Linked DNA regions of Homo sapiens: regions 1, 2, 3, 4 and 5 are each reported to be linked to region 6. The links are microRNA targets in miRTarBase. Many come from high-throughput screens and were not tested one by one. Region 6 holds a microRNA gene; each other region holds the end of a gene's coding sequence.

Evidence for each region. Region 6 holds the annotated microRNA hsa-miR-5006-3p (UUUCCCUUUCCAUCCUGGCAG, at 2,218-2,238, shown strand). A microRNA usually pairs through its seed, bases 2 to 8, with sites in the 3' UTR of a target mRNA and lowers its output. Matches are read on the target gene's strand: a 7mer-m8 pairs with bases 2 to 8, a 7mer-A1 pairs with bases 2 to 7 and ends in A, and an 8mer does both.
Region 1: miRTarBase lists DPF2 as a target of hsa-miR-5006-3p. Seed matches in the 3' UTR shown: 7mer-m8 at 3,052-3,058.
Region 2: miRTarBase lists RRS1 as a target of hsa-miR-5006-3p. Seed matches in the 3' UTR shown: 7mer-A1 at 695-701 and 7mer-A1 at 874-880.
Region 3: the mRNA of ZBTB43 is a reported target of hsa-miR-5006-3p. Seed matches in the 3' UTR shown: 8mer at 797-804.
Region 4: miRTarBase lists CPT1B as a target of hsa-miR-5006-3p. The part of its 3' UTR that is shown has no 7-base or 8-base seed match.
Region 5: miRTarBase lists TFDP3 as a target of hsa-miR-5006-3p. Seed matches in the 3' UTR shown: 7mer-A1 at 4,624-4,630.

The regions. Positions count from the first base shown.
Region 1 is chr11:65,351,131-65,356,238 of GRCh38, forward strand. It overlaps DPF2 (double PHD fingers 2), which reads left to right. Exons shown (of 11, transcript NM_006268.5): 11 at 553-3,132. The coding sequence ends at 629. TIGD3 (tigger transposable element derived 3) reads left to right here and starts at 3,621. Exons shown (of 2, transcript NM_145719.3): 1 at 3,621-3,827; 2 at 4,663-5,108. The coding sequence starts at 4,679. RefSeq lists silencers at 3,349-3,408, 3,499-3,818, 3,839-3,898, 3,909-4,078, 4,139-4,328.
Region 2 is chr8:66,429,768-66,434,767 of GRCh38, forward strand. RRS1 (regulator of ribosome synthesis 1) reads left to right here. Exons shown (of 1, transcript NM_015169.4): 1 at 1-966. The coding sequence ends at 462. ADHFE1 (alcohol dehydrogenase iron containing 1) reads left to right here and starts at 2,737. Exons shown (of 14, transcript NM_144650.3): 1 at 2,737-2,808. The coding sequence starts at 2,750. LOC102724687 (a long non-coding RNA gene) reads right to left here and starts at 2,599. Exons shown (of 5, transcript XR_929013.3): 1 at 2,517-2,599. RefSeq lists an enhancer at 765-814 and a silencer at 2,571-2,990.
Region 3 is chr9:126,833,359-126,838,358 of GRCh38, forward strand. It overlaps ZBTB43 (zinc finger and BTB domain containing 43), which reads left to right. Exons shown (of 3, transcript NM_014007.4): 3 at 1-4,852. The coding sequence ends at 555. Among named protein-coding and RNA genes, the nearest start is that of ZBTB34, 25 kb to the right of the region's middle. RefSeq lists an enhancer at 1-349.
Region 4 is chr22:50,565,062-50,570,169 of GRCh38, forward strand. CPT1B (carnitine palmitoyltransferase 1B) reads right to left here. Exons shown (of 20, transcript NM_152246.3): 18 at 4,515-4,607; 19 at 4,275-4,360; 20 at 3,800-4,020. The coding sequence ends at 4,277. CHKB-CPT1B (CHKB-CPT1B readthrough (NMD candidate)) reads right to left here. Exons shown (of 30, transcript NR_027928.2): 28 at 4,515-4,607; 29 at 4,106-4,360; 30 at 3,800-4,020. LOC107985568 (a long non-coding RNA gene) reads left to right here. Exons shown (of 2, transcript XR_001755606.3): 2 at 3,546-4,082. Among named protein-coding and RNA genes, the nearest start is that of SYCE3, 4.7 kb to the left of the region's middle. RefSeq lists an enhancer at 5,104-5,108.
Region 5 is chrX:133,212,373-133,217,474 of GRCh38, forward strand. It overlaps TFDP3 (transcription factor Dp family member 3), which reads right to left. Exons shown (of 1, transcript NM_016521.3): 1 at 4,290-5,102. The coding sequence ends at 4,670. Among named protein-coding and RNA genes, the nearest start is that of TFDP3, 3.4 kb to the right of the region's middle.
Region 6 is chr13:41,565,436-41,570,543 of GRCh38, reverse strand. MIR5006 (microRNA 5006) reads left to right here and starts at 2,149; the gene lies at 2,149-2,258. It overlaps VWA8 (von Willebrand factor A domain containing 8), which reads left to right. Exons shown (of 45, transcript NM_015058.2): 44 at 1-76; 45 at 2,239-3,709. The coding sequence ends at 2,347.

The sequences.
Region 1 (5,108 bases), not on the chromosome of region 6:
CACCTGTTTCTGAAGAGCTGATAAAAGCCCTAGAATAATGTCCAAATGCGCATAGGTATAATTTTGCTTATCATTTCAAGGCATTAAGGACTAATTTTATTCAAAAAAAATTAGAAGAATTCAGCCATAGTCAATATTAATAAACAAGGAATGACCCAATTGTTTTTCATATAAGGGACAATTATTTTGTGTTTTTTAGTGAAACTACACAAGTCTTAAAACTGAGGTGCTTGACAAACTTCTGTCTTCCCAGGCCCTCTTCCTACTCCCAAAACTTCTGATTTAATAGGGCCAAGAGGGCCTGGGCATCAGTATTCTGAAGTCCTCTAGATGATTATTTCTTTCATCTCCATAGAGGATGATATTTCATAATATTTGAAGACTTAGAGGTTTATCCCAGCTCAGGAAACCATGGAACTTTCCTGCTGCAGAGCATCCCTCGTCCTACCTGTAGCTGATCCTGCTATAGAGATGGGGTATCAAGAGCAGAGGAATTGCAAGCAGGTGGGGATTGTGTGGGACCCATCCTGACCCCATTTTGCCTCTCTGCAGGAAGTTGGAGCTGCCACCTGTGTCTGGACCTGTTGAAAGAGAAAGCTTCCATCTACCAGAACCAGAACTCCTCTTGATGTGGCCACCCACCTGCTCCCCGACATATCTAAGGCTGTTTCTCTCCTCCACTTCATATTTCATACCCATCTTTCCCTTCTTCCTCCTCTCCTTCACAAATCCAGAGAACCTTGGGGTGGTTGTGCCAGCCTGCCTTTGGCAGCTGCAAGCTGAGGTGGCAGCTCTGACCACCTCTGGCCCCAGGCCCTCAGGGAGAAAGGAGCAACACACTGCCCCTAGGCGTGCGTGTGGCCCAGTTTCTCTCTGCTCTCCATTAAGTGCATTCACTCTGCTTGCCTTGGGCCCAGCCCCTGGTGATCACAGGGTTCAAACAGTGTCCTCCTAGAAAGAGTGGGAGAGCAGCTCACTTCTCTGTGTTCTGCCTCCCCTCTGGTCTCCAGAGTTTTCCTGTCCTCTAGAGGCAAGCCAGGCCAGGGAGCTGGGAGCGAGCAAGCTGAGGCCACGTCCACAAGGAGCTTTTCATGCCCCTGTGCCGCATAGCCTCACCTCTTTCCTCCAGAGTGGCTCTCTGCGGCCCTGTGTTCCTGCTACAGAGTGTTCTTTTCTGGAGTCAGGATGTTCTCGGTCACCCTCCTGGTTCTGCCCTGTCCCATTCCACCCCACCCCAGGGGGAACAGTAGCTTCACCTTGTTATTCCCATTGCTCTCCTGGCTCACTCTTACGGTCGGTCTCCAGTGACTGAAGCATTCCCCACCCTTGGAATTTCTCATCTTCTGCCTCCCTTCCTACTCCTTTTGGTTTTGTGGGGAGAGGGGAAGGATCAGGGGGCCAGGCCAGCAGCTCGGGGGCCACAAGGAGATGGATAATGTGCCTGTTTTTTAACACAACAAAAAAGCCTACCTCCAAAATCCCCTTTTTGTTCTTCCTGGACCTGGGCATTCAGCCTCCTGCTCTTAACTGAATTGGGAGCCTCTGCCACCTGCCCCGTGTATCCTGGCTCTCAGCTCATGGGGAAGCCACATAGACATCCCTTTCTTCCCTTGCACGCTCGCTAGCAGCTGGTAAGGTCTTCACACCCTGATTCCTCAAGTTTTCTGCTTAGTGGCACTGACATTAAGTAGTGGGGGGACAGTCCATGCCAGGACACCCTGGAGTAGCCTTCCCCCTTGGCCGTGGGCAGGCCCTAACTCACTGTCGCTTTGGAGTTGAGGTGTCTTTTTTTTTTCTTTCTTTAGTTCCTGTATTCTAAACATTAGTAAAAATAAATGTTTTTACACAGAGCCCTCTGCTGGATGGTTTATCTCCTGCCTTTCTCCATTAAGAAGGCCATTTCATCCTAAGATTTCCATGATGGTGGTTTTTTTTTTTAATGTTTTGAAATACAGCTTTTTTCCCCCCAAATTAAAATTTTTTTGTGGAACCCCAATATGTAAAGCGAATATAAAATTGGTTATTTTGTTTTGTTACATAAATTCAAGTTTATAACAATTCTTTGTTATAAAGAACAATGAAGCTGTTTTGATCAATACAAAATTTGGGTTAAAATCAACTTTAACATCTATTTTTATGTTTCAGTTGATTTGGAGAATTCTCCTAGTCTTGGATACATAGATGGAAGTGATGACAGGTTTATAACAGTTGACCTTGCAATCTCAGACATTTAAAACAGGACCAGAAGTTTATATAAATATAATTAATAAGCAAACTAATGACATCACCATGGGACACACACAAAAGTTCTTGCAGGAGCAGGGTCTGTGTGGCTTCAGTTGCCTGCAGCGCTCCCAGGCCAGAGCAAGTGCTCTAGGATCTGAACTGCCCGCAGTGCAGCCCTGCAGCCTTTCCCAGGGCACGTTGATGTGCACACAGTTTCCCTGAAGGCAAAGTGAACATGTGGAGAGCTTACGTGGCAGCGCGTATGTCTTCAGTGTGTGTTTTAGAAGTCCAACTGTTGTTTTTATGTTTTTAAAGGAAAGATTTGAATCAAGCAGTTATGGGCCCCCTGAAGTATCCTTTTTTCTAGAACATTCTGAAAGTCATCCTTGCCTATGGGAAGCCTAGGCCGGCCTGCACTGTTATGTTCAATAAATAAGCAGGGTGCTCTGGGCTGGGGATTGTGTGAGGAGCAGAGCGCAGCCCGTCCTCATGCTTTTCCACTGAAGTAGGCCAGGCAGAGAGGGAGTACAGCAATGGATGCGCTTTGGCAGCTGAGTAGTCCGAGAGCCAGAAAAGAAATGTGGAAAATAAGAACGCTGTAGCAGGCCTAGGTGAGGAAATTTAGGAAGGGTTTGCGGGAGGTAGGATTTGAGATGGGTCTTGGAGAGTTGGACAGTGTCAGCCGGTAGGACGGGGGTGCGGACGGAAGCCTGTGAGGAAGGCAGAGGATGCGGAGCTGTGAGCGGAGGGAGCAGCGAGGCTGGAGAGCAGCTGGGCTGCGGGTCAAGACGTCTGCGTTTAATTCGGGACTGAAGGTTAGCAGGGAAGGGAACGATGCCAGATCTTGAGTTTAAGAACTTGAATCTTGTAAAGTACCAAATCTAATAAAATACTCGTCCTAAATCATTACTGGCCCAAGCATGCAGTGTTTCCGTGGCCGACAGACTCGAGCCAGCGCTGTCCATGGTAACCAGCTTTTGTGTGGCTTAAAGCTTGCATCCATTTTCTCCTTTCATCGTTTTCCCAAAACAATTCCGTGAGGGCTGTTAGCCCTGCTTGGTAGACGAAGAAGCCGATGCGGTCTAGGGTCACGGCCAGGGAGGCTTTGGGACGCCAAGTCAGCTCGGCGGTCACCACACCACCTACAGGGCTCGTCGGGCCCTCGGGGTCGGCGGCTGCTGGAGGCGCCCAGGGGAGTCCTGCTGGTTCCTGGCTCCGCCTCCCGCCCCTCCGCGCTAGAAGCCCCGCCCCCAGAGGGGCTCGACGAACCGCCACTTCCGCAACGTCCAATGAAACTTAGCCGGGGGAGGGACGGGGCGCCACTGAGGACCAATCTGCTTGGGCCGGGGCGGGGCTGCGGCGGGTGGGTGCAGAGGGGCCGCACCGCGGACTTCGCAGCCGGGAGAGAGCCCGGCGCGGGCGGCGCGCACGGGACTCTGCTGTGCGCGCGCCCGCCCGCCCGCCGTCCGCGCAGGCCCTCGGTCCGCTCTGCCCTCGGGGTCGTGGCGCCCATCCCTCCCCTGTTCTGCTGTCGCCGCCCGGACAGGGGCTCGGGAGCCGGGCTGGGGGCAGGGGCTGGAGCCGCGGGACCAGCGCCTGAGGTGGGTGCGGAGCGGGAGGCCGGGCGGGCGGGCGCCTGGGGCCGCCCCGCCGACATACTCCGGGTCGAGGGGGAGTGACCGGCCAGGGCACGGAGTCCGGCTGCCGGCCTGCCTGGGTCCGGGCGTTCGTTCCCGCGCCCTGGGACCCTCCCAGGCCACCACCCTCCCCGCGGGGACACCCCGCCCCTCCGCTGCCCGCAGCCTCCTCAGGCCTCCCGCCCTTTGTCGCTCGTGCACCTGCGCCCTCGGCCCTGCCCTCTCGCTCCCCTCAGGACTGACCGTCGCCTAGCCTCCCTCTCAGGACCCGGCACCAAATTAGCCTCGCTCCTTCAGACACCCTCTGTCCCCTTTGTCGTCTGTACACCTGTCACCTCAACTCTGTGTGCATCCACCCACCTCCCACCCCCCAGCGGCGTCATCTGAATCCAGCCCAAGCCGCCTCCCACTCCCTCCCGGGGGCTCCTCCCCCGCAGCCCCGTAGCCCCACACCTGCCCCCTCGGCCCCAGTCCCAGGCCCTCCCCCGTCCGTATGCCTTTGTTATCTCTGCAGCTGTCCCCTGCACTTTTCATCCTTCTTCCCGAGTGAGGCCAGACCCCAGCCCAGACTCCCCTGTCCTTCTGAGTGGAGAGACGCCCCCTCCCCAGCTCTGCCCTGGCATCCTGGGGACGGGGCCAGCCGGCTTCCACTCGGCCTAGCCACTTCCTCTTTCAGCGGGTCCAGTCTCACCCGGTGCCTGCGCAAGTCCTCATCTAATCTCTTTTCCCTCCTGCGCTCCTTTCCTAGCTCTTCCGGCCTCAGATTACTCTACCCGCTCAATCTTTCCTCCCCGCACAGGTGCCCCGGAGAGGCCATGGAGCTGAGCAGCAAGAAGAAGCTTCACGCCCTGTCCCTGGCCGAGAAGATCCAGGTGCTGGAACTCCTGGATGAGTCCAAGATGTCCCAGTCGGAGGTGGCCCGGCGCTTCCAGGTTTCCCAGCCCCAGATCTCGCGCATCTGCAAGAATAAGGAGAAGCTGCTGGCGGACTGGTGCAGCGGCACAGCCAACCGAGAGCGCAAGCGCAAGCGGGAGTCCAAGTACAGCGGGATCGACGAGGCTCTGCTCTGCTGGTACCACATTGCCCGGGCCAAGGCCTGGGACGTGACGGGGCCCATGCTGCTCCACAAAGCCAAGGAGCTGGCCGATATCATGGGCCAGGACTTCGTGCCCAGCATCGGCTGGCTGGTCCGCTGGAAACGCCGAAACAACGTCGGCTTTGGGGCCCGCCATGTTCTTGCGCCTT
Region 2 (5,000 bases), not on the chromosome of region 6:
CAGAGTAAGGAGGAGCTGGGCCGCGCCATGCAAGTGGCCAAGGTCTCCACCGCCTCTGTGGGGCGCTTTCAGGAGCGCCTCCCCAAGGAGAAGGTGCCCCGGGGCTCCGGCAAGAAAAGGAAGTTTCAACCCCTTTTCGGGGACTTTGCAGCCGAGAAAAAGAACCAGTTGGAGCTGCTTCGTGTCATGAACAGCAAGAAGCCTCAGCTGGATGTGACTAGGGCCACCAATAAGCAGATGAGGGAGGAGGACCAGGAGGAGGCCGCCAAGAGGAGGAAAATGAGCCAGAAGGGCAAGAGAAAGGGAGGCCGGCAGGGGCCTGGGGGCAAGAGGAAAGGGGGCCCGCCCAGCCAGGGAGGGAAGAGGAAAGGGGGCTTGGGAGGCAAGATGAATTCTGGGCCGCCTGGCTTGGGTGGCAAGAGAAAAGGAGGACAGCGCCCAGGAGGAAAGAGGAGGAAGTAATAGTTTCTAACTGTCGGACCCGTCTGTAAACCAAGGACTATGAATACTAAATGTTAAGTTCTAGGCAATTATACGGGGACTCAGAAGGACCTGGCCGCTGCCTTCATTGAGTTTAAAGGGACAGGATTGCCCTTCCGTCAAGAAAGTATGTAAGTGTTGGACTGCACAAATTAATGTTTTTCCCACAACCGAGACTTTGGAGATTAAGAACTTATTTGAGGATTTAAGAATTAGGGAAATAATTTGGTGGAAACCGGGAATGAGTTCTATTCTTAAACAGCCTTTTTTTTTCTTTTTAATGTTGGATATACGGCGAGGTAGAGTTGGCCATATTTCAGAGACTTAGATTGACGTATATGTTTCTGCATTATTTTTACAACAAGTTTGTGTATCAGAGCGGGAGTGCGGGGGAGGGAAAGAAAACAAACAGTTTCAGAATTGAATAGGCAAGTGACTGTTTTAAAGATTAAGTAATAAAGATGTCTTATCTAGTGTGACTTTTAACTTTCTGACTACTGGGTAGAAATTGTACTTGAAGCCGGTTACCTGGATACCTGGTACAGATTATTTTTGTTTACTTTCTGAAAAACACAAAGCAGGCCGTGCGCAGTGGCTCACTCCTGTAGAGTCCCAGTACTTTGGGAGGCCGGGGCGGGCGGATCACCTGAGGTCAGGAGTTCGCGACCAGCCTGGCCAACACAGTGAAACCCCATCTCTACTAAAAATAAAAAAATTAGCCAGACACGGTGGCTGGTACCTGTAGTCCCAGCTACTTGGGAGGCTGAGGCAGGAGTATCGTTTGAACCTGGGAGGCGGAGGTTGCAGTGAGCCCAGATCACGCCACTGCACTCCACTCCAGCCTGGGCAACAGAGGAAGGGGCCATCTCAAAAAAAAAAAGCAGTTCAATTATAATGGTTTCAGTGATACCACTTCTAAACTTATACTTCTTTTGGTATCAAATATAATATTCAAAGTAGTAAAACTGATGTCTGTTTTTTAAAAAGATTTTATGCCTTTCAACACTGAACACATGGATTTCCTGTAAATGATCAATTTGGGCTTCATTGACTAATGGTAATAATCCTCATTAATCCAGAAAACACTTAAATCTTTCTCTACGTTTATATCCCCAGTTGTTTGTGTGTGTGTGTTTGTTTTTAAGCTTGACGTCAGGTATAGTTTTGTTTGGGGGAAGAAAGAAACAGACCCATAAGATCCTTAATTAGGACATTATTATCTTTTTTTAAGTTCCGGAGTAGATGTGCAGGATGTGCATGTTTGTTACATAGGTAAACGTGTGCTGTGGTGGCTTGCTGCACCTATCAACCCATCACCTAAGTATTAAGTCCCTCTGCCCCCTTCTATCCCCTGCCCCCAGGCCCCAATGTGTGTTGTTCCCCTCCCTGTGTACATGTGTTCTCATAGAACATTATTTTTTGATTCATTTGTCAAGTTGGCCTGAGCTGGTTTGATTAGGAGGTGAAATGTTTATATAGCTGTCCTTGGTCTTCCTGTCCATCAATCTTTTCCAGTTTGATCGCAGTAAATTCATTTCTGTAAAACTTAATATCTCCCATAAAGGATTCAGATTTCATAATAACAGATTACTAAAAATGCAAATGTTTAGTTGTTACTGTCTTTGGATACTTTCTGATAAAGTTGAGCTTTATCGTTAATCAGCTTTTCCACTGGGACATGGCAGATATGGCACAGCCAAGCCCTCCCGGAGCATAGTCTAATCATGGCAAGTTTTAACTATTGATGTAAGAGTTTTAACTATTGATTTTGCTTTCATCAAAAGCAAAGCCATTCACACAGTATTTAACAAAAACCCTCGGGCTCTGCTAGGTTCTTGTTTACTGTTAAAACAGTTTAAAGGCAGGGTCTTGATCACTTAAAATACTCTTAGAAGGGAAAGTAACATTTTAAAGGATTAACAGTGGAAAAAGAATATCCCTGTTCCTCTTCCTTCCCCCAAGTCCTCAACATGTGAAAAATAGAGTTGATAAGTAAGGAGATTTAAGGCAGAACCCGAGGCCTACGGAGCAGTTACCTTCTACGGCAATTTCAAGGGTGGATGGTGCGAGCGCCGCTGGGGCAGCTGGCGTTCTGGTTCTTACTCCGTGGGAAAATGGCCCTGAGCCCGACTGGCTTGAGGCTTAGACAGGTGACCCCGCGAAGCGGGTGGGCAGGCGCGGCCGAGGGGCGGGAGGCGGGCAGCCTCCGTGATTGGCCGGCGGAGGGGGCGGTGTAGCGACCCGAGGAGGGAAGAGGACTCCAAGCGCCATGGCCGCTGCCGCCCGAGCCCGGGTCGCGTACTTGCTGAGGCAACTGCAACGCGCAGCGTGAGTGCGGGGCCGGCGGGCGGGCAGGGGACCGCAGGGTGCCCACGCAGCCCCCTGGGTGTGACCCGCTCAGATCCTGCGCAGTCTTCTCCGCTTACTTTCAAGAATTCGGAGAATTTGGATACCGCCCTGGGCTCCCACCGCGCGCCAGGCGGAACAGCGAGGTCACAGAGTGCGCGATGCAGCCTCTCAGGGCGCAGTGAGGCAGCCTTTACTCTGCTTGTCTACCGTTAAAGAAACTGAGGCCCAGAGAGGACCTGGTCCCACATCGTAGCAGGCAGTGGAGAGCTTGGCACGGTGGCCAAGACAAATTCATGTATGCAATTGACACATATTTATTGGGCATATATTATGTGCCAAAAACTATTCTAGGTTCTGGGGATACAAAGATGAAAGGCTCTGGAGCAGTTTGAGGTCTAGTGGGGAATGGGATGAGGGGACGAGGCTAAAACCGGCTATAGCAGACTGGGTGTAGAAGGGAAGGATGGATGTGAGAAGTCGCAGAGTCACACTTCCTGGCATGTACAGGGAGTCAGGGTATTCAATGTCATGACACGCCTGCCTCCCAGCAGAAATGTGAGGTACATCCTGGTCACCTGATAAATACTTGCTGACTGTGCAAGTGCACAAGTCTGCCTGGGAAACATGGAAAAGTTTGAGCTCACAGGTGCAGATCAGTAGGAGGAAAGGCGAGGGACTGGCGAGGAACGTCAGGCAGAGAGAAGAGCAACACCAGCGATGGAGATGCAGTCCCAGGACACAAAAGACAAGTAGACCTACCTTTATAAGAGGAGGTAAAGATGGAGAAGACGGCTGATAAAAGACCATGAATAAGAATATAGCTAATACGATGAGCCCGGCAGTGTCTTACACACTTTGAATGGACTATCAGTATAATAGTAACTCTAATCCTTTCACTGACCCTATGACACACGGTATTGTCATCCTCATAGATACGGAAATAAAGGCATGGAGAAGAATTTGTCCAGTGTCACACAGCTAAGCAAATGGCACAGTCATAATTTGAACCCAGATACTCTGGCTTCACAGTCCTTGTTCTTAGGCCTGTAGTAAGGAATTTGAATTGTGTGCTGTAGATAATGGAAAGCCATTGAATAATATTTGTCACCATTAAACACTGATACCTTAAAATGTCCCATGACAAAAGAATTACATGGCCAAATAAGTTTGAGAAGCTCCTTACTGCTGTATTGCCCTCTTGGAGAATCAAAATATACATTAGACATGCAGGGCTCCAAGAAGCTACAAAAAATACTAAAGCTGTGTTCAAATTTTTGGTTGTAAACCTGTGTCATCATAGAACTCTTTGTCACACAACACCATTTATATCCCATGGAATCAGTGTCACACACAGAATATGTTTTTGGAATGGTTGCATGAAAAGGGAGTATGGCATAATCAGAACTGTGTTAGCACATTCTGGTGGAAATGTGGAGTGAAGAGGAAGGACTAGAGGTCATTGTCCTGCTCCAGCCTGAAGATAATGGCTTCATGCACGGAGAGGCAGTTCCTTGGGTAGATAGAAATGCTGAGAGGTTGGTTAGAATCCACAGGATTTTGTATCTGAATAGTGAAGAGTTGAGATTTCTGGCTTGGGCATCAAGTAAACAGTGGGCTCATTTACCAAGGCAGGGATTGTAGGAGAGTTAGTGTTAGGAGGAAAATGGCAACTTCAGTCTAGGGCATTTTGAGTTGAGCATGCTTCTGGTACATTCAGATGGAGACCCCAGTAGGTGATTGAATGTATTGTTCTGGGGCTCAAGAGTGAGTTGGGAACACATCCATCCATGCGTATGGAGGACAGTTGAAGCCCTAACAAAACTCTAACCTAGAAGGAAACAGCTGAGGGTGAATTCCTGGGGAGCAGCACTGCCACAGCAGGAGTAGCAAGATGGTGCTTTCTTCTGCACATGCTTATTATTCTAATAGGGTAAACATTTTAAAAGTGGGAGATTTCCAATGAAAATCTTGGAAAATTGGAAAATGGCATCATTGGGCACATGTTTCATCTGGGCAAAGTGGGCTAGGGCACGGGGTGATGTGTGGCCATTTCTATTGGACAGAGCATGCACTCTGGGCTTCTGCCCAACACATTCCATAGAGCAACTGCGCTGACAACTGAATGGAGGGGAAAGAATCAGCACTGAAGGAGACAGAGGCAAGGCGTGCAC
Region 3 (5,000 bases), not on the chromosome of region 6:
CCTTCGGGAGTGGAGGAGGACTTCCACATCGGGGAGAAGAAAGTGGAAGCTGAGTTTGATGAACAGGCTGATGAAAGCAATTATGATGAGCAGGTGGATTTCTATGGCTCTTCCATGGAAGAGTTTTCCGGAGAGAGGTCAGATGGGAATCTAATTGGGCACAGACAGGAGGCTGCCCTCGCAGCAGGTTACAGTGAGAATATTGAAATGGTAACAGGGATTAAAGAAGAAGCTTCCCACTTAGGATTCTCAGCCACTGACAAGCTGTATCCTTGTCAGTGTGGGAAAAGTTTCACTCACAAGAGTCAGAGAGATCGGCACATGAGCATGCACCTCGGTCTTCGGCCTTACGGCTGTGGGGTCTGCGGTAAGAAATTCAAAATGAAGCACCATCTCGTGGGCCACATGAAAATTCACACAGGCATAAAGCCGTATGAGTGTAATATCTGTGCAAAGAGGTTTATGTGGAGGGACAGTTTCCACCGGCATGTGACTTCTTGTACTAAGTCCTACGAAGCTGCAAAGGCTGAGCAGAATACAACTGAGGCTAACTAAAAATAGGATCTGGCCCTTGAGTGGCATGCACAAAAATAAACTATGGTAATTAATGCAAATCTGGGCACAGATGATGCGTGCTACTTGCTATTATGAGAGAAGCTTAAAAAAAAAAAGGAAGATATTTCTGAAAGACCAGCTCTAAGTAGGCCAATTAAAAAAATCTAATTCCTCAAATTTGTGTGTTCCAGTCCTGGCCTGGAATGGGTAATGGGGTGAGTTAACCCACCGCCCAGCTGGCAAGGGAAACCTTCTGACTGGTTGTGATCGAAACAGGTGGACAGAGACACCTGCACTTGGAACTGGACTCCACCCACCAGTTCCATTTTGGGTGGCAGCAGCTTTGGATCACTCATTATTACAAGGTCATGCTGAAATTTTATTTTGCTCTTGCTATAGATACTTAGGTAATGTGGATTTGTTTTGGTAGCTATTTCACTGAAGGAAGTGCTACTTATATAAAAGCTAGAAATAATGTGATTCCTAGGATGAGAAATTGGTTAACAGAGCTCTGTTGTCTGGTTTTAGTCTTTCTAAAGGATATTTTAACTAAAACTATGGAGATGCTAAGAGAGTGACTTTCTAAATATGAAACAGATAATTTACGGTACAAGGCTGACATAGTGCCCTTGTCAGTTTCTGTAAGATGCCACTACTGTCACAAGGTGTTTCAGACTCTTGATAAGGCAGTGTTTTGTATTTTAGTTCTAACATTGAGTTTGGACAATTTTATCTAATTGTAATTCTCTAGGGTGCCAGAGATAGGTATTTCTCATTGGTTTGCTTTCCCAAATCCTGTTTGGTTAATTGTAGCCTCCATACAGTGGGGTCTTCTCTGTGGCTGGTAGACACCAAGCTGCTGTGACTGACCACGGTACCACGGGCTGCCACAGCCCCTGCTCTGTCTTAGATTATGGTGCTTTACAAAGAGAGTGGTCCATGACCACACTTAGTGAGAAGGAGCCACAAGTTGTGGCTGAGAGTTCCCTGTGAACTTGAGTAGTTCATAGAGTGCTAAGGTGACACTCCACCAACCAGAGTGAGAGGGCAGATAGGCAGGATTCTATGAGTGGTTATACTTAAGGGGGACAAAACTGCCCAAGAAGAATCTTGAGAATACACTCTTTCAAGGTGGGGGAGATACTCTTTAGAGGGTACACTGAGCTAATACTACCAGTTCTTTATGAGCACTGGAATGTGTTTGTAAAAGGAGTCCTAAGTTTAGCAAGGTAGTCTACAGAACCATGCTCCCACATTATAGATAAAGCTGCTTAAACTTAAAAGTCCACAAAGCTACGCCGACCAGAAAAAAAAAATTAAAAAAACAAACAAGAAAAGCAACTATTCTGAGACCTTTTCTGCCCATCAGTTAGATGATTTAGGTTAAAAAGAAAGGTAATATTGCACATGCTTTTAAGCTGTGTAACATACCTGAGGTTATCACCAGGGTAGGACAGGGTGCTACTACCATGTCATCTTTTCCACAATCGTACTGGGTTATTTACTTCTAAATAGAAACTTTTTTTTCTTAAAATAAAAATAATTTTTCTTGGATTTGGGGTGAAATTTTATTTGAAAAGTTTGGCTTTGCTGTAATGTAATAGACATTGCTGGCAATGGCCTCTGATTCTCAAGCTCCTAACACCAGGGTGTTTACTTGTTGAACATTGTCTGGAAAGAGGAAAGAAAATACTTATTTACCAGTTAACTCTTGTAAGCAAGATTACAAACAGGGATTTATTCACAACACTGTATCATTCTCGATATATAAAAAGCACTTTGTATTTAAAACTTTATTATAAATATATATATATATTGTTTTTTTTTAAACCTAGAAACTAGATATTACCTCTTGGTTGTTTGCCACATTAATAGCTTCTCTTAGTATTGAAACGTTACTGGTTAGCAGTCTTTTCTCTGTGTACCTGACACACGTATACTGAGGGGATTGTACAATCAAGCCTATTGTCTCCTTTTCTTTCACTCATGGTAGAGGCCAGTGGGTTTTAGGTATGATCCTAGCCATTATATTTGAGGAGAAATTGTTCTATTACTCCTACTAATTTCAGTACTAAGGTGGTGATGCCATTTTGTTCTGCCAAAAACTGATCACCCTCTCCCATGGTATTAGCAGAGCATTTTCTGCCTGTTTGGAAGGTTTGATGTCCTGTTTCTCATTGAAGACTATTTACATGATCATTAGGACATTGCAGGAGAAGTCTGAGAGGTAAAAATACAGATATTCTGGGAGAGTCGTGGTCCTTCAGTTCTGCTGAAATCAGCATAGTGCCCTTGTCATGAGGAAGAGTTTCTGTTCAGCCAAGAGTGGTGGCACGCTTGGGTGGTAGTTTTGGAAGCAGTCAGTTGTGCTAGGACTTATTTAATATGTTGTGAAGAGAAGAGTGTCTTCTTGAAAGCCTTATGTGTCCATCAGCTACTAAATGTAGAACTTAAATAAGTTGCTCACATCTGTTCTTTTAGTGTTTTGTGGTATTTGAGGTTTTGGCAAAAATTGGGATTTTTTTATCAGGCAGCCAGAGCCTGGGAGGTGGTAGGGTGTCTGAAATGCTGGCCATGTTCAGAGAGGCAGGAGAAGGGGGTTGCTTTCATTTGAATATTAAAAGTGAATTTTTGTAAACTCTGGTTTTTACCTTTTTTTCATCCCCACGTTGAGTTGGAGGAATAGTCTCTTCTCTTCACCTCAATATAGCTTTAGAAAATCTTTATCCTTCCTAATAAGTTTGGATGGTTGTGGGTAACATTGTTCAAACAATCTTTCAGGGATCACGTCAATGGCCTACAACCAAGCTATTTGTCCCCTACTTTGAGTCTTAACTGTGGTTTTTCTTCAATCCCCATGGGAAAGGGCTTCAAGGCACCACCAGTGGTATTTAATATTCATACTTGGGGCCAGGCATGGTGGCTCACGCCTGTAATCCCAGCACTTTGGGAGGCCGAGATGGGTGGATCACCTGAGGTCAGGAGTTTGTGACCAGCCTGACCAACATAGTGAAACCCCATCTCTACTAAAAATACAAAAATTAGCCAGGCGTGGTGGCGCACACCTGTAATCCCAGCTACTCGGGAGGCGGAGGCAGGAGAATCACTTGAACCTGGGAGGCGGAGGTTGCAGTGAGCCGCGATTGCACCACCACACTCCAGCCTGCGCGACAGATCGAGACTCTGTCTCAAAAAAAAAAAAAAAATTCATACTTATGCCATGCTTTTACCTTTAGATACACACGTTACAGTAATCCACGTGGTGAAGTGCATGTCACCGTTAACTAAGGAAGGACTGCGGTAACTTACCCTGCAGGGCTGTAGGTTGCCTGCAGGCGCTCCAGGCCCCCAGCCTGTTGATTCCGATTTCTAGGTCTCATCTTCCTCTGGTCCCTTTTGGCCACTACTTTAAAAGCTTGCCCAAAGGGATCCCCTCCATTCTAGTGGGCATTTGCTGAACTAACCTGCCCCTAAGGCTGGCTTCTAACCACCGGGGAAAGCTGCTTAGCCTCCAGGGCTCCCTCCTTGAGAGGCTCACACACCCCCAAGCTGCTGTGGAGTGAATTTGAGACGGAGCAGAAGCTGCAAAGCTGTGCTTTCCCTGGGGAAGGGGATGTGCTGCGGCCTCCTGGGTGGGCGTGGAGAGGGCGCCATCACAACGAGTCCAGGTTTTTGCTTTTGGAAGGTCTCTGATAATTTAGGGGTGCTGGAAACCAGCACTGTGTTATCCCCAATCCCTCCTGTGCCACCAGTTTTGTGATTTAGGTTGCTTTAGTGGGTGACTAACTTTTGTTCAGTGAAACCAGGGTTTGTTTGGGGTTTTTTTCTTTGCTACTTACATATTTAAAGGTACAAGTTTCTTATTTCAAATCTCTACTGATAGTGCCCTATGGGGAGATGCTGGAACACATTTTGCAAATGTGACTTTTTTTTTTTTTTTTAATTTTTGCTTGAAGCCTGTGTCATGTTAGTTGCTGCTGCCTTCTTTCCTTTTGTGAGGTTCCCAATGTTTCGTCCAGAAAAGTACTTTATTTATGCAAGTCAGGTGACTCTTAGGCCACAAAACCATTTGATGATAAACAGATTATCATTAGGTGCATATCTTATTGATATTTTGTGAAATGTTATGCCTATGTTGCAAAAGTTGAATAGTTTTGTCTTTATATATTGCTGTCTTCAGTGTACAGCATGGTTTTACTTAATTGAATGTTAATGTTTAATATTTTCTTCTTATAGAAGAGATCATGCCCTTTTGTATGACATGTTTTAATAAATGTTATCTGTCAACTTTGTAAAAGTTTTGTTTTTCACTATGAGTAGATGACCACATCTTGTTTGACTCTGGGTTTTGCCACCTGAGAATACAGTTATATGGTGGCGTTTTGGTAAGTAAATGCCAAATAATCTGATCCAATGGGCAGTGAGTGACTGCCAGGCAGGCATTT
Region 4 (5,108 bases), not on the chromosome of region 6:
TTATCTGACCAACAGTCCAGCTTCTATTGGGTTGAGCCATGAGGTTTCAGGATTTATGTTATGGCTGCTAGCTTTTATTAATGCAGACCTGCAGACCTATGGGACATGGGGAACTAATTGGGGTTTGGGTTGTCATCAGAGGTTTATTTATTTTTTTAAGACAGGGTGTTGCTCTGTCACCTAGGCTGGAATGCAGTGGGTCAATCATGGCTCACTGCAGCCTCAATCTCTCAGGCTCAAGTAATCCTCCCAACTCAGCCTCCAGAGTAGCTGGGGCCACAGGCAAGTGCCACCACGCCTGGCTAATTTTTTTTTTTTAATTTTGTAGAGATGGGGTCTCACTGCACCACCCAGGCTGGTCTCGAACTCCTGGGCTCAAGACCTCCCAAAGCACAGGCATTACAGGCGTGAGCTACCATGCCCAGCAGTCTCCAGAGGTTTATACCCTGGTTTACCACTGTTGTTCCTCATCTCACTATTTTAACCCAGAACAAATGAGATAAAAGAACTTTAATGCTGAATTTTGATGTTAATTGAAAGCTAGCTTGTTGGAAACTCTGTTTACTGCTATCTCAGGACGGGGTGAGCTGATGTCCCCAGAAGACTACCAAAACGCAGGCACCTTCCCAGGGGAGGCTTACTGGCACCCAAACAGGTAGAGGTCTCTGGAAATACTTTTGGAAGCTGAAGAACGCTCTGATATGGAATGTAACATTTTGCAGGCAGAGGTGTACTCTTTTTTTTTTTTTTTTTTTGAGACAGAGTCTCGGTCTCCCAGGCTGGAGTACAGTGGCACCATCTTAGCTCACTGCAACCTCCATCTCCTGGGTTCAAGCGATTCTCCTGCCTCAGCCTCCTGAGTAGCTGGGACTACAGGCACGTGCCACCACACCCGGCTAATTTTTGTATTTTTAGTAGAGGCAGGGTTTTGCTGTATTAGCCAGGATGGTCTCGATCTCCTGACCTCGTGATCTGCCCGCCTCGGCCTCCCAAAGTGCTGGGATTACAGGTGTGAGCCACCGCGCCCGGCCCCAAGAGGCATACTCTTATAGCTCATGAAGACTTGAAGGAGGTGAGGAGCCTCTGCCCTGGGAATCCTCTCATGCACTTTCAAGGTTTTAACTGTCTTCAAAACTGTTAGAAGGAGCCTAGATCTCTCCTTAGCTTTTCATTTATATTTTCAAGAGTCTGAGACATTTTCACAGCTATTTCTTATAGGCAAGTCAAATTCAACATTTAAAGACCTAATTTAATCACCCAATCACCCAATATAGAAAATATGAGTTATCTTTGATTCCTCCTGATTAGACTTGTCAGTCCTACGTTTGACATTCCAAGCTCCTTAATTCTACTTTCCTATGGCACTGCCTTAGTTTAAGCCGCTCATTTCTTCCAGCTCCACCACCACCAGGAGCACTTCTCCAGCGGGTCTCCTTGCTTCCACTGTTACTGCGTCCTACTTTGTTCTAACGCCACCCTGGTTAGCCAGTGATCCCTTAAAATTAGGACAGATTATGCCACCCTCTGTTCAAAGCCCAACAGCTTCCCCCGTCATTCAGAAAATCCAGAATCTGGCCTACGAGGCCCTTGTTACCCCGATCTAGCTGCCCCGCTTGCTCTTCCCATCCCTGACTCCACACTAGCCACATCCTTCATCACAGCAGACACCGCTCGCAAAGCTTTGGCTCTTGCTGTTCCTTCAGCCAGGAATACTCTGCCCTTAGGTACGGAACATGAGGGACATGAGGGACATGACTTGCTCCTCGTCTCCTTCAGGCCTGTGGTCAAAGGACCCCAATCAGGAAGGCTTGCTTTTGCCACTGTCTGAAATTGCCACCCACCTCTCCTTTTGTCTCTCCACTTACTTTTCCTCTTTTTTTTTTTTTGAGACGGAGTCTTGCTCTGTCGCCCAGGCTGGAGTGCAGTGGCGCGATCTTGGCTCACTGCAAGCTCCACCTCCCAGGTTCACGCCATTCTCCTGCCTCAGCCTCTCCCAGTAGCTGGGACTACAAGCACCCACCACCACACCTGGCTAATTTTTTGTATTTTTAGTAGAGACAGGGTTTCACCGTGGTCTTGATCTCCTGACCTTGTGATCCACCTGCCTTGGCCTCCCAAAGTGCTGAGATTACAAGCGTGAGCCACTGCGCCCAGCCCATGGTGTCTTATAAGTGTCTTATATAAGGGTACCATTTTTTTTTTTTTTGAGACGGAGTCTCGCTCTGTTGCCCAGGCTGGAGTGCAGTGGTGCCATCTTGGCTCAGTGCAAGCTCCGCCTCCTGGGTTCACGCCATCCTCCTGCCTCAGCCTCCCAAGCAGCTAGGACTACGGGCGCCCGCCACCATGCCTGGCTAGTTTTTGTATTTTGTTTAGTAGAGACACTGTTTCACCGTGTTAGCCAGGATGGTCTCGATCTTCTGACCTCGTGATCCACCTGCCTCGGCCTCCCAAGGTGCTGGGATCACAGGCGTGAGCCACTGCACCTGGCCATAAGGGTGCCATTTTTAATCTTTTATATAACATTTTTACTATACCTTTTCTATGTTTAGACAAGTTTAGATACACAAAGACTTCCCATTGTATTACAGTTGCCTACAGTATTCAGTATGGTAACATGTTGTAAAGGCATGCGGCCTAGGAGCAACAGGGTAAGCAGCATAGCCCAGGTCTGTAGTAGGCTGCACCATCTACCTTTGTGTAAATGCACTCTAGAATCTTTGCACAACAAAATCGCCTAACAATGCACTTCTCAGAATGTATCCCCTTCATTAAGCAACCCATGCCTGTACTTGGTAAGTGGATTATCCCAAAAGCCTCCTGGTTTCCTGCCAGCTGCTCTGTCCCCTGACCACACCTGCCTCACCCAGCAGTGAATTCGACATGGGCAGGAATAGGACCTTGTTTACCACTGAATCCCCAGCACAGGGCCAAGTCTATGGTGGGTGTTCAACAGACACTGGTTCCTGGCCGGGCACGGTGGCTCACGCCTGAAATCCTAGCACTTTGGAAAGTCGAGGTGGGAGGATCACTTAAGCTCAGGAGTTCGAGACCAGCCTGGGCAACATAGTGAGACCCTATCTCATGGGAAAAAAAAGAAAAAAACAAAAACAGATGAAGACACTGGTTCCTAAATGAAGGTCCAGAACTGAATCTAATTCACTTCAATTACAGTAATTGAGGGCCTACTTATACTTTTCATAAAAATTATTTTTTATGGCTGGGTGCGGTGGCTCACACCTATAATCCCTGCACGTTGGGAGGCTGAGGCAGGTGGATCACCTGAGGTCAGGAATTCGAGACCAGCCTGGCCAACATGGTAAAACCCTGCCTCTACTAAAAATACAAAAAATTAGCCGGGCGTGATGGCGGGCGCCTGTTGTCCCAGCTACTCAGGAGCTGAGGTACGAGAATCGCTTGAACCCAGGAGGCAGAGGTTGTAGTGAGTCGAGATCGTGCCACTGCACTCCAGCCTGGGCAACAAGAGCGAAACTCCGCCTTAAAAACAAAGAATAATTATTTTGTATTTACTCTTAACATGATTTTAGCAGCCGAGCCAACCTCAGTGAAGGAGTGTCTGTTGCTACAGGTCATCCTGCGTGCCCTCTTGCAGACATGACCACCTGGCGCCTCAAGACTTCAGGCCTGGGCCTGCAGCCCCTTTCCATGCTGACAAGAAGCTGCGGGGCCCGTGCAGGGTTGTGCCTCAGCCAAGAGGGGTGCCTCACACATGCCCCTGCATGGGAGGAGGTGGGCTCACTCTCCAGCAGACAGACAAACAGAAATGGCCCCAGGGAACAGGTGAAGGTTCTGAGGCAAGTATTTATTCCAAGCAAACACGTGGGCGTGGACAGCTATCTCAGAGCCTACGTCACTCAGCAGAGTCACACATTTCAAAGCAGGTCACACAAGTCCCTCATGAACAGTCTTCCAGCTTCAGCCCTTCTCTTGCCACCTCTGTGGTCTGAGCTGGGGGAGGGGGAGGGCCTCCGAGTTCCCAAACAAAACACAGGTACCTAAGGGCTGAGAGAAAATTACACAGCCTTATTTTTATTAGTATCTATCAAGAAAAAAAAAAATCAAAATTCCCTTCCTGCTCCAACCCCACCTCCACCACCTGGGCCCTCAGGGAGCAGCATCTGCCCAGCGAGGACCTGCTGCCGGAGCTGTCCTTGGAGCCTGGGCACCTGTGCACGGCCACCCCTCATGCCTGTGAGCTGCCACAGGTCCCTTCCTCCACAGTGTGGGGACGAAAGGGCAGCTGGCATTTCTCCAACCTTCAGCTGTAGGCCTTGGGAACTTGGAAAAGATCAGCAATGTCCAGCAGGGCTTTGCGGATGTGGTTTCCAAAGCGCTGGGCGTTCTGTGGGAGCCAAGAGTTCAGATGCACCTTCAGATATGTACCCACCCCTCTGTTCCCACAAGCAAGGATGCCTCCCCAGCCAAAGACACCTGTGTTCCTGGGCAGCCCCAGGTGGCACCCCTTCCTCAGGCCTGAGCTGTGGCAGGAGACTCACCGTCTCTGAGCTTGAGAACTTGCTGGAGATGTGGAAGAAGATCGTGTTCTCGCCTGCAATCATGTAGGAAACTCCATAGCCATCATCTGCTACCTGAGGGCAACAAGAAGGGTGAAGAAGGCATAAATCAAACCTTGAAGATCTGAAAGCCAAGCTGATATTGTACTTGTTCTTCCCACAAGAGTTGCAGGAACGGGCCCCAGCCCTAGACACTGCATTTTTCCTGAGGACCACCCCCAGGAAACTGTGAAAACCAAAGAATGCTGCCCAGACCCCGCCAAGGGATCTGGGACCTCCCAGTTTCCCTCAGGGGGCTTATTCTCTAGATCACTCCGTCTCTCTCCAGAGGGTTCTCTAGCCTTCTGACAAGCTAGCCCATGTGAAGGTTTCTGTGGGAGACAGCTGCACTCTCTTGGATAAGTAGACTTCAGAAGCACCCAGTGCACTGCCCAGTACCCTGGAAACCAGCCCCACAGTCATGCTTCAGTACCCCGGAAACCACGGTCATGCTTCAGCAGGGAGGTATTTGGGATGGGTGGGTCCCAGGTGCTTGGCTGCCTGAGTCCATAGCTAACATTCTGCTTCCATGCAGGT
Region 5 (5,102 bases), not on the chromosome of region 6:
GGCACAGTGACTCACACCTGTAATCCAAGCACTTTGGGAGGCTGAGGCAGGCAGGTCACTTAAGGTCAGGAGTTTGAGATAAGCCTGGTCAACATGGTAAAACCCCATCTCTATTCAAAAATACATGCACACACACAAATTAGCCAGGAGTGGTAGTGCGCATCTGTAATCCAAGCACTTCAGGAGGCTGAGGTGGGTAGATTACTTGAGGTCAGGAGTTCAAGACCAGCCTGGCCAACATTGTGAAAACCCTGTCTCTACTAAAAACACAAACAATAGCTTGGTGTGGTGGTGCATACCTGTAATCCCAGCTACTCAGGAGGCTGAGGTACAAGAATCACTTGAACCTGGGAGGCTAAGTTGCAGTGAGCCGAGATCGCGCCACTGCACTCCAGCCTGGGTGACAAGAGTGAGGCGGGAGAGATGGGAGAGGGAAGACAGGGAGAGGGGAAGAGGGGGAGGCGGGGAGAGGGGGAGAGGGGAAGAGGGGGGGGAGGGGGGGAAGGAGAGAGGGGCAGAGGGACAGCCAGTTTCAGCTGTCTCTGAAGGAATCCCCCTAAAATGTGCTCTGTTGGCCAGGTGTGGTGGCTCACACTTTGAGAGGCCCAGCACTTTGAGAGGCCGAGGCAGAAGGATCGCTTGAGCCTGGGCAACATAAATCTGTACAAAATAAAAAAAAAAAAGCTGGGAGTGATGGTGTGTCCCTGCAGTCCCAGCTACTCTGGAGGCTAGGCGGGAGGATTGCTGGAGCCCAGGAGGTCGAGGCTGCAGTGAGCTATGATTGTGCCACTGCACCCCTGCCTGAATGACAGAGCAAAACCCCATCTCAATAAAAAAGGTGGGGCTCTGTCCACACTAGGGCCAGACCATTAAAGAGGAAACACGCGGGGAATCCTAATGATCACAGTAGTAATGACTGAAGTGAGAGACGCTCAAGGGAAAGAACCCAAAGGGCCTGAGTCACCCCACTGGAGCAGCCCTCCTTTGCTTTCTGGCAGATCTGCTTTCCATTTGTTCTGCTTGCCTGCAACCCTGGAGAGCTCTGTGCTTTGTTTTAATAAAATCTCCCCACTCTCTTCCAGTGCCTTCCTGCCTTCTCTAACTACAAAGTTCTTTAAGAAGCCAAGGGAGGCGTTACCTTCTTGTATGCAGTCAGACTTCCACAGGTAAGCCAATCTCTCTCTCTCTCTCTCTCTCTGTGCAATCTCCATTTATGAACATGGGTATATTTCTTTTAAAGAAATATTCTTTGCCTTCAAATATTTTTTTCCTACTAATCAAATCATTTCAGCCTTGTCCCCAATTGAAGTTCTCTCTTCCTGCCCACCAACCCCCCTGAACATGTTCCCAGGCCTTGCCACCATGTAAACCCGTAATCTTTTATACCACTATCCATATTGGTTTATAAAACAGAGGTATGCAACACATTGGAAAGAAAAAATGGCACCTGTCAAATACCAAACCCTATGAAATGCCTGTGCAATTTCACTTTTCACCTAGTAAATATCCAATTATTTTCCAGAATAGCTCTTTCCAGAATTCAAATCTGTTTCCATTAATATTAAAAGTTTAGAGGTCTGGGAGAACAGGAAGTGGCTGATTAAAAGCAGGTGGGGTTCATTATCTGGTTAATCACAATCCAGTATTTCCCACCTCCATTTGCCTCTCCCCCTCCCCCAAAACCATGTTCTGCCTCAGCAAAGGTCACACTCAAATTCTGCAAATAAAAACTTATCCTATAACATTTCAAGAGTGGAGCTGGGTTTTGGAGGGCTTGAGACCAGAATCATTATAAAAGAAATTTATTTCATACCATTTTCGCCAGGAAAGCAAATATCTTCCAAAGCATTGACTATCATTCTATCGCACAGAAAGGATGCCGATTGTGCTTCTTAGAGTCAGGCTCTGCTTGAATGTTAGTAATAGAATATTTAGAGTTGGAAGTGTCTCCTGGAGATTCCCTGCCCATTTATTAGATGGGGAAACTGAGACTGAGAGAAGAGAAGGGATTTGCTGAAATTGTACCTCCAGTTAGTGGCGGAGCTCAGACAAGGACACGTCAGTCCTAGGCATTGCTGGTGTGTGGGAAAAACGCCAAAAGGGCCTGACTGGAATGAACTGCAGTCATTTCTCTGTCTACTACATCTCCATGGGCCACATGTTCATGGCTCAGCTTTTACTTGCTCCCCTGAGAATTGACTCAAAGGCAAAGCCAAAATGGATATTTTAATGCAAAGCACATTAGGAGGCCAGAAGGCAAAAGGAGGTACTGTCTGGGGCTGCTGGCTGCACTTGGCTGGGAAGGCTTTGCTCCAGACCTTAGGAGACTGTTCATTCGGATGTTCTAGGTGCCAGCGCCAAGGGGAAGGCAGGGCAAAGGCTGAACACTGGCTATGGCAGTGCCCACCCCTTCATGGAGTCCACATCTGACAAGCAGTGCAGGTGGAGCTATGTGACATGTCCCTTGGAGGTGAGGAGCAGCCCTCTCAGTGATCCAACGTTCCTCAGAAATTTTTAGGAGCTGAAAGCCTTCCAAAGTGGGGCAACTATGTTAAGGCTTGATGGGGGGAAAAAAAGGCACGTGTTTTGCAGCATGGTTTGGAAAAGTATTCAGACAGGACACAAGGGAACCGATCCCCCAAAAAACAGGGACCAGCCAGTGCCATCACTATACACAGGTGACCTTGGTAGTGTCTTCTCTACTCCCAAGACTACTCGAAACCATGTCTTAGATGTCTTGTATGTTGCTGGTGGGAGTTTCACAGCTTCTGTGGAAACCTGCCTGGTGGTTCCTCAAAAGGCTTAATATAGTGTTACCATATGACCCAGTAATTCCACTCCCAGATACACACATACTCAAGAGAATTGAAAGCAGAGACTTGAACAGATATTTGCATACTAATGTTCACTGCACTGTTACTCGCAATAGCCGAAAGGCAGAAACAACCCAACTGGCCATCAAGAGATGACTGGATAAACAAAAAGTCTATCTATCCATACAATGGAATGTTACCCATAAAAAGGAATGAAGTACTGATCCATGCTACAAGATGGATGAACCTTGGAAACATTTTGCTAAGTAAAAGAAGTCAGTCATGACCACGTGTGGTGGCTCACACCTGTAATTTCAACACTTTTGGACGCTGAGGTAGGTGGATTGCTTGAGCCCAGGGGCTCGACACCAGCCTGGGCAACATGGTGAAACCCCAACTCTACAAAAAATACCAAAAAAAAAAAAATTAGCTAGGTGTGGAGTAGCTGTAGTCCCAGCTACTCGGGAGGCTAAGGTGGGAGGATTGATTGAGCCTGGAACGTTGAGGCTGCAGTGAGCCATGATCTTTCCACTGCACTGCAGGCCTGGGCAATAGAGACCTTATCTCAAAATAATAATCATAATAGCCATCCTAATGGGTGTGAAGTGGTATCTCATTGTAATTAACTACCTGCCCTCTCTTAATGGGTCTTACGGTCTTGCTTTCACAGTGATTATCCTAGTGTCTATTTTTTCTTGGAACTCTGGACAGGTCTGCATATGGTTGGAAAGATGACCCTTTGTGAAACTGTGCTTGAAGAAAGCAACAGCTCCCTCTGCTGTCCCCAGCCACACTTTTGGTACAACTTTCTCATATTAATGAGTCAAGATCTCCCTACCTAGGTTCTAACCCAGTTTCTTCTCACCATACCATGACACTGCTATAGGCTCCACTGCTGTTCTATCTCACCAATTTGAAAAAGGAAAACCTACTCATCTTGCTTCCAGTCAGCAAATGATTCCTGCATAGATAGATGTGCATTGATTGCCGGCTAGGAGCCTTCAGCCATCCTGTCTTAGTTCGTTTTCTGCTCCTATAACAGACTGGGTAATTTATAAAGAAAAATAGATTTATTTGGCTTATGGTTCTGGAGCCTGAGAAGTCCAAAGCCATGGTGCCAGCATATGCTTGGCACCTAGTGAAGACCTTCCTGCTGTGTCCTAACATGGCAGAATGGCAAGCAAGCATTCAAGACAGAGGAACAGGGTTGAAATTATCCTTCTATCAAGAGTCTATTCCTATTATAACAGCATTAATCCATTGATGAGGGCACAGCCCTTATGGCCTAATCACCTCTTAAAGGCCCTACCTCTTTTTTTTTAAGATTGATGGTGTTTATTGTTCTGAAAATAGAATTCTGCCGTTTGCTTGGGGCTCTGGACACTGCAAAACTGAACAAATGGAAAACTCAAGAGTCTTGCTATGCATCAGTGGGGGTGCCATCCAAATCCAAGGCAAATAAACGGCATTCGGTACTCACTGTGCACAAAAGGAGAGCATTTTATTTTCATGGATGTGGATGAAGTACAATTTCTTCAGTAAACTCAGGAAAAACTGTTAAGGGGCAACAATGAACTCTGCATTTAAAGAAAAATAGAAAATGAAAACACAAAATCCTAAAAAGTAAATAAAGATTCTGTGTCAGCACACTGGTATCAAAACACACATCAACAGCACGTCTTAATCATACGGGAAACAATCCTTGCTTATCAGAGGTGCATATCTAAATTCTATAGCTTACCAATATCTTCTTGGGAGTAGGCAAAAAAGAAACAGAAAACCTCACATTAAAAAAAAAAAAAAAGTTTCTTTTCCCTAAATGTTTTCCTGAAGCTGAATCTTAAGGCGAGAGGACGTCAGTCATCCTCGTCATTCTCACTGAGGTCGTCATCGTTGTTGTCCTCCTCCTCTTCCTCCTCGACTGCTGGGGTCTCCACCCTGGAGCCACTGTACTGAGATCCACCGGAGCTTGTGGCCAGCATCCCAATCGCAATGTTGGTCAGGTCACTGGCAGAAAGCCACGTGCCATTAGACCTGGAACCTGCCGTCGTGAACACACCTCCAAAAGTTCCCTGAGCCATTTCTGTCACGTACGGCTCCAGAGCCTTTGGGACCAAATTTCTGGCCATTTTAAGGTCTTCGGCAGAGCAGCTCCCGGACTCTAGCCCAAAAGTCATGCCCATCCACATCAGCACTTCTGTGTCATCGTGGATTTCAAAGGAGCTGTTAAACTTAAACAGATATTCTGATTTGTCGTCGGAGATGCTGCAGTTGATGACGGTCTTCTTG
Region 6 (5,108 bases):
CTCAAATCCTCACAAGAGACCCTCAAGTAAATGCTTTTGCCATTTTTATTGGCTCTTTAGGTGATCAAGCAACCAGGTAAGTGTCATCTGAGCATACAGAAAAGGGCAGGTACAGAGATACTGAGTAGCTAACACATGCTGTTTTATAGGCTTAGCACCATGAGGGACAGTGAGGCAGATGGAGGAAAAACAGAAACTAAAGTTACTAGCCTCAAGGGGTTTATAATCTAGTTGAGGGGATATGTTCTAGCTTTTGTTTAGATGAACAATAATAATTTTAAATTAATTATTTTTTAGTTTATATTTAAGCCACTAATAAATCATTGACAAATTGATTTGTCACTAATAAACCGGGTAGTATTTTATACATTTGGCACTTTATGTCAAGCTCCTAAGCTCAGGCTAATCATTTTGTGTTCAAATCATATTAAAAATCGTGAACATCTACTATTTTCCTAGCATAGGAGATAGTGTGTGTGTATGAATGTCTGTACATATTAGACATATATATACACACATATGTATTATATCCCCATAGAGACATCACCTACATATATGCATGCCTGTATATATATATAGACACACTCACATGTATCCCTTCTTATTGCTGGAGAGACAAGGCAGGTGAAACACTTGGCGACAACATAAGATAATATACATATAGTTAGATACTACACTGAATATACTAAATATTCAATAGAGAATCTTATGATCAGACAATAAATACCAGTGGGTATGATCTGAAAGGAGAGATCTGGAAACACTTTCATAACTTGAACACAATAACATTTATCTTTTTGAATTACAAACAGAAAGAGCTCATGGTTTTTCTGTGTTTAAAATACCTGTAAGAAACATAAAACACCAGTGAAAGTAATCTTAAAAAAAAAAAAAAAAATCCCTGCCTAAAGCACAAAGGGCCTACGTTTTTGTTATTCCACCCCTTTTACTTTTCATACTCTGTGACTGGAAATGTTTTAATATCCAAAATGCTAGCAGCTTTTTCTCTTTCTATTCCCTTTGCCTTGCTGTAAGGTTGCAGAGCGAGGTTGAGAACAGACTTAATATCATGTAGTTACAGTCATTTTATGACATGACTTTTCATTCTTCTTAGTTTTTACAAGTTAGCACTTTGCATCTTTTAGAACCTCCACATCCTCAAACACAAACTATGCCTTTTCCACCCAGGTTTTCCTCAGCATCAGCCCAGTATTAGGCAGACAACAAGCTCAACAAATACTAGTTGAGATGAAATGGCTATTTTGTCTTTCTAGTGAACAGATCCTGTTTGAATACTTAAGAAAGCACAATAATACCCTTGTGGTTTCCTAGGGAAATGGTCCAACATCCACTGGCAAAAGATATGTTGCAGAATTAGCTGGCTTACCAGGCATGCCAAATATACGATACTACACAGGATGGTTGAATTTTATTAAATGTCATTCCAAAGCCAGACTTCACTGGCACAGTGAAAGGAGGCGTTCTTTTGAAGAGAACTGTGTCTTACAGTTTTGTTGCCTTCAAAATGGCCTTTTGTTCCAAATTATAAATTAGTATTTAAAAAAGTATCGTAACTTCAATGACATGTTATTTTTAAGGATAATTCAAATCAAAACCCATTATAAGTTTTTTAAAATTCACTTAAAAATGAGTTGGAAAAAATTTCATAAGCCTGTATAACCTCAGTGTCATTGAAGCAGTAATTGGACAATCCAGATCGCATTTCACATTGTGTGATGTGGACCAAAAAAAAGAGAGAGAGGCAAAGAAAGAGAGAAAGAACCACTCAGGGTTTGGCTGCGCAGCGTTTTTAGAGGCCTGTTTTCTAAGGAAGGAAAAGCACTTCGAAATACAGTGTAAGGTCAACATATTTGCTAGACCCGGGAGGTGAGCTGATTCCATATGAATCCCTATGGCTCTGTTATACCAAAAGAATATGAAATACCAAGAAATGGCAGTAAAGAAAGGAAGAAAATTTTTTCTTTTCAAATTCACTGACTTTCTCACTGAAAAGACCTTTCTTTCAGTTCCCTGCTTTTGCTGTGTCTTTCCTTGTTGCTCTTCCAAGCCTTTCATTGTTTAATGACGACTAATTCAATGGTAGGCAGAGAGCAAGGTATTAGAAAGTAAAAACTTCCTTTCCTAAGAAACCATTAGGGGGCTGTGGTTTGCCAGGGCAGGAGGTGGAAGGGAGCCCCATTTACAGTGGTAACTTCCTTTCCCTTTCCATCCTGGCAGGCTTCAGAGAACTTTACCAGCTGGTCGGTCTTTCGTTGCCATGGATACCAAGGATATCCCTCAGATTTTACAACAGATCTTCACCTCCACCATGTTGTCGAGTGTCTAAGAAGTGCCCTTCATCACCCTGATGACACCAGGATTTGAAATAAGACAGGAATAAAGAGTATTCTGAAAAAAAGAAGATATGGATGAAGTGAACCCATGCAGTGACTGGATGATTCCGGCATTCCTGGGTCTTCCTACACTTGCTCCGTAATGAGAATTCAGAGAAGCAGCCAGAAGGAGACTTAAACATGGAAAGATACTCCACTGATGAGTTTAGAAGTGATTAGGGCAAGCTAGTTGACCTGCACTTTATCAAAGGTTGGGGTTAAAGGAAGGTGGTTTTGAGAACTATGTGTTTGGTCTATTTCCAAAAACCTGAGGGGGAGAAAATACTTTGCTTTTGCCTTAACACATCATCTGGTCACGTTAGAAAAGTGACCCCATCAAACTGAGCCTTTGATGTCACATTCTGACACAAGATGCAAGTCTGTGCAAAACCCACCAAAATGCTCCTATCCAACAATTATTTTTATTTTCTCCCTGCTCTGTATTGACCAGAAAACAATGATTTTATAATATTTAACCCACCAAAAAGTCCCTCCAACAGCAATATCTTATGAAAGTCTGGCTGTTCTCAATAATTTCATTTTCTTGGCCAAAGCCAAAAGGAATCAAAAAATCCTTGGAGTGCTTGCCTTTCCACGTGACTTTTAAAAGGCTCTTAAAGAGCAAATGTCCTCTTCTCCTTGCTGCTAGAGTGGGAGGAGAAAGATGTCTTGCCTTAAAAGTTTACTGTTTCTTCTGTTCTTCTAGCATCTCTCAAAAAATTCACAGTACTCCATTTTGGGGTCCAAACTGTAATGCTCAAAATAATAAATGCTTACACGAAAATTATTTATTGAGAATATTCATATAAAAATTACCTAAAGCAAAGTAAAAAAAGTAAAATCAAGGTGGTATATTTGAAGTGAATGGTGATTGGAAATTTTTAGCTGTAACAAAAAGAAAGAAAACAACTTTTTTTAAAGCCTCATTCTCTTTTCTTTCAAAATGTACCTTATTCCCACACACTCTTGGGCTGACCTTTATTTTATCAATAAGCTCAATATTACTTTGTTTAAAATAAGATGCTTCAGCAAAAGTCATTCTCTCTTTAACCATATAATTTAAAAACTCCTCTTCACGATTGATAGCAAAATCAGAAACGTTAGGGCACCAGTGAGTTGAAAAAACTGGTCTTAAGTTGGAAAAACTATTATTAATAATATTATCCTATCCATCCATATCTATTGAAATTGTACAGGTCCATAATTTCATTTTAATTAATTATAGGAAAGAAGAAAAGATAATACCCATTTGTTCTATCACCCCTCTCCCTATCATTAACTATCAAATAAATAAATAAAAGCAATCTGATTTCCAACGTGGTACTACCTGGTGAGTTTGCATGGCTTTCTTGTTCCTCTAGTGAGACACCTGCTCCATGTATTGAACCATTCAATGATGCAAACAATTTCAATCCAACATGTATCTTTAAAAATGTAATTGCATTCCAACGGTCGCCACAACAGCAGCTAGCATTTACTGATGATTTACTGTGAACCAGGTATATGCTAAGTGATTGCATACATTATTTCATTCATCCTTACAACAATGCATGTAACAGGGGTATTTTTTACCTTATTTTGCAGATGATAAAGAAAGTGAGGCTCAGAGAATTTAAGTCACTTTCCCAAGATTCCTGTTACTAGACCTTTCACTAACTATTCATGGTACCATTAACATCCTCATTTTACAAGTAAAGAAACTGAGGCTTAGAGAAGTTCAAGAAAATAGGCCACACTCACAGCCAGGCAGGGGCAAAGCTGGGCCTCCAGCCTCCAGGCCCCTTAATGCCTTTGCGTCCCTCGCAGTCCCACGCCCCTTGCTGCATCTCACAAATGTACATGTCACACTCCTGCTGCCTTTTTCTCTTCCTTCCAGTGTGACTTCTCTTCTTGTACCCTGTCCACATTCACAGGGCTCTCTTCCTCTCCCTTTCCTCAGAAAGTCTATCTATCTGCCCATATTCGAGCACTCAGAGGTGTGGGGACCGAGGACATGGGACACTGTCGGGGGAACACTTCTAACTGCTGCTTCCTTGCTAGGCACAGCAGCAATCTGAGGAAGTGCCCTTCCAAGTGGCAGCTTAACCCCAAGGGATGCCCCTTAGCTAGCGGGTCACTGCCCCTGAAAGCCTTTGGAAGTGGAATCCAAGGGAGATTAAAGGAACAGCCAACCTTTAGCAAATCCTCCCCATGCGTAACTACCTGAGGAGGCAGAAGCCATTTTTTTTGACATGGAAAGAATGTTCTCAAGTAATTTAATTTACCTTTCTCGACCAGCCAGACATCCTCTGCAATTGCTATTTTTAAAAAAGCACAGTACTCCTGGCTTTTCTGATTTGTGAAGGGGAAGGATGATGGGGAAAGGGAATTGAGACTGAGAAGACGAAGAGCTTATTTTCACTTCTTGCAATACCTAAGAAGTATGTGCATTTATTATTAAATGTACTTAATTATAGACCACTCCAAGCTGTTCCCAGGCCCTTCTTAGGGCCAAGACATTATAATAAATGCATTGTGTGCCTCGGGGGGTTCCACTGAAAGGCATCTAACCCCTGTCTCCTTAGTAAGCACATGTAATGCTGAGAAGGTTCATTGTTACCCATGAGCAGCCAGGAGGAATGAATGCCGTGAATAGCTGCAGTATATGATGCATATTCCCCCTAGAATCCTCTGTGTGCCCGACAAAATGACCTCATCACAGATGGGGAGGCTCAG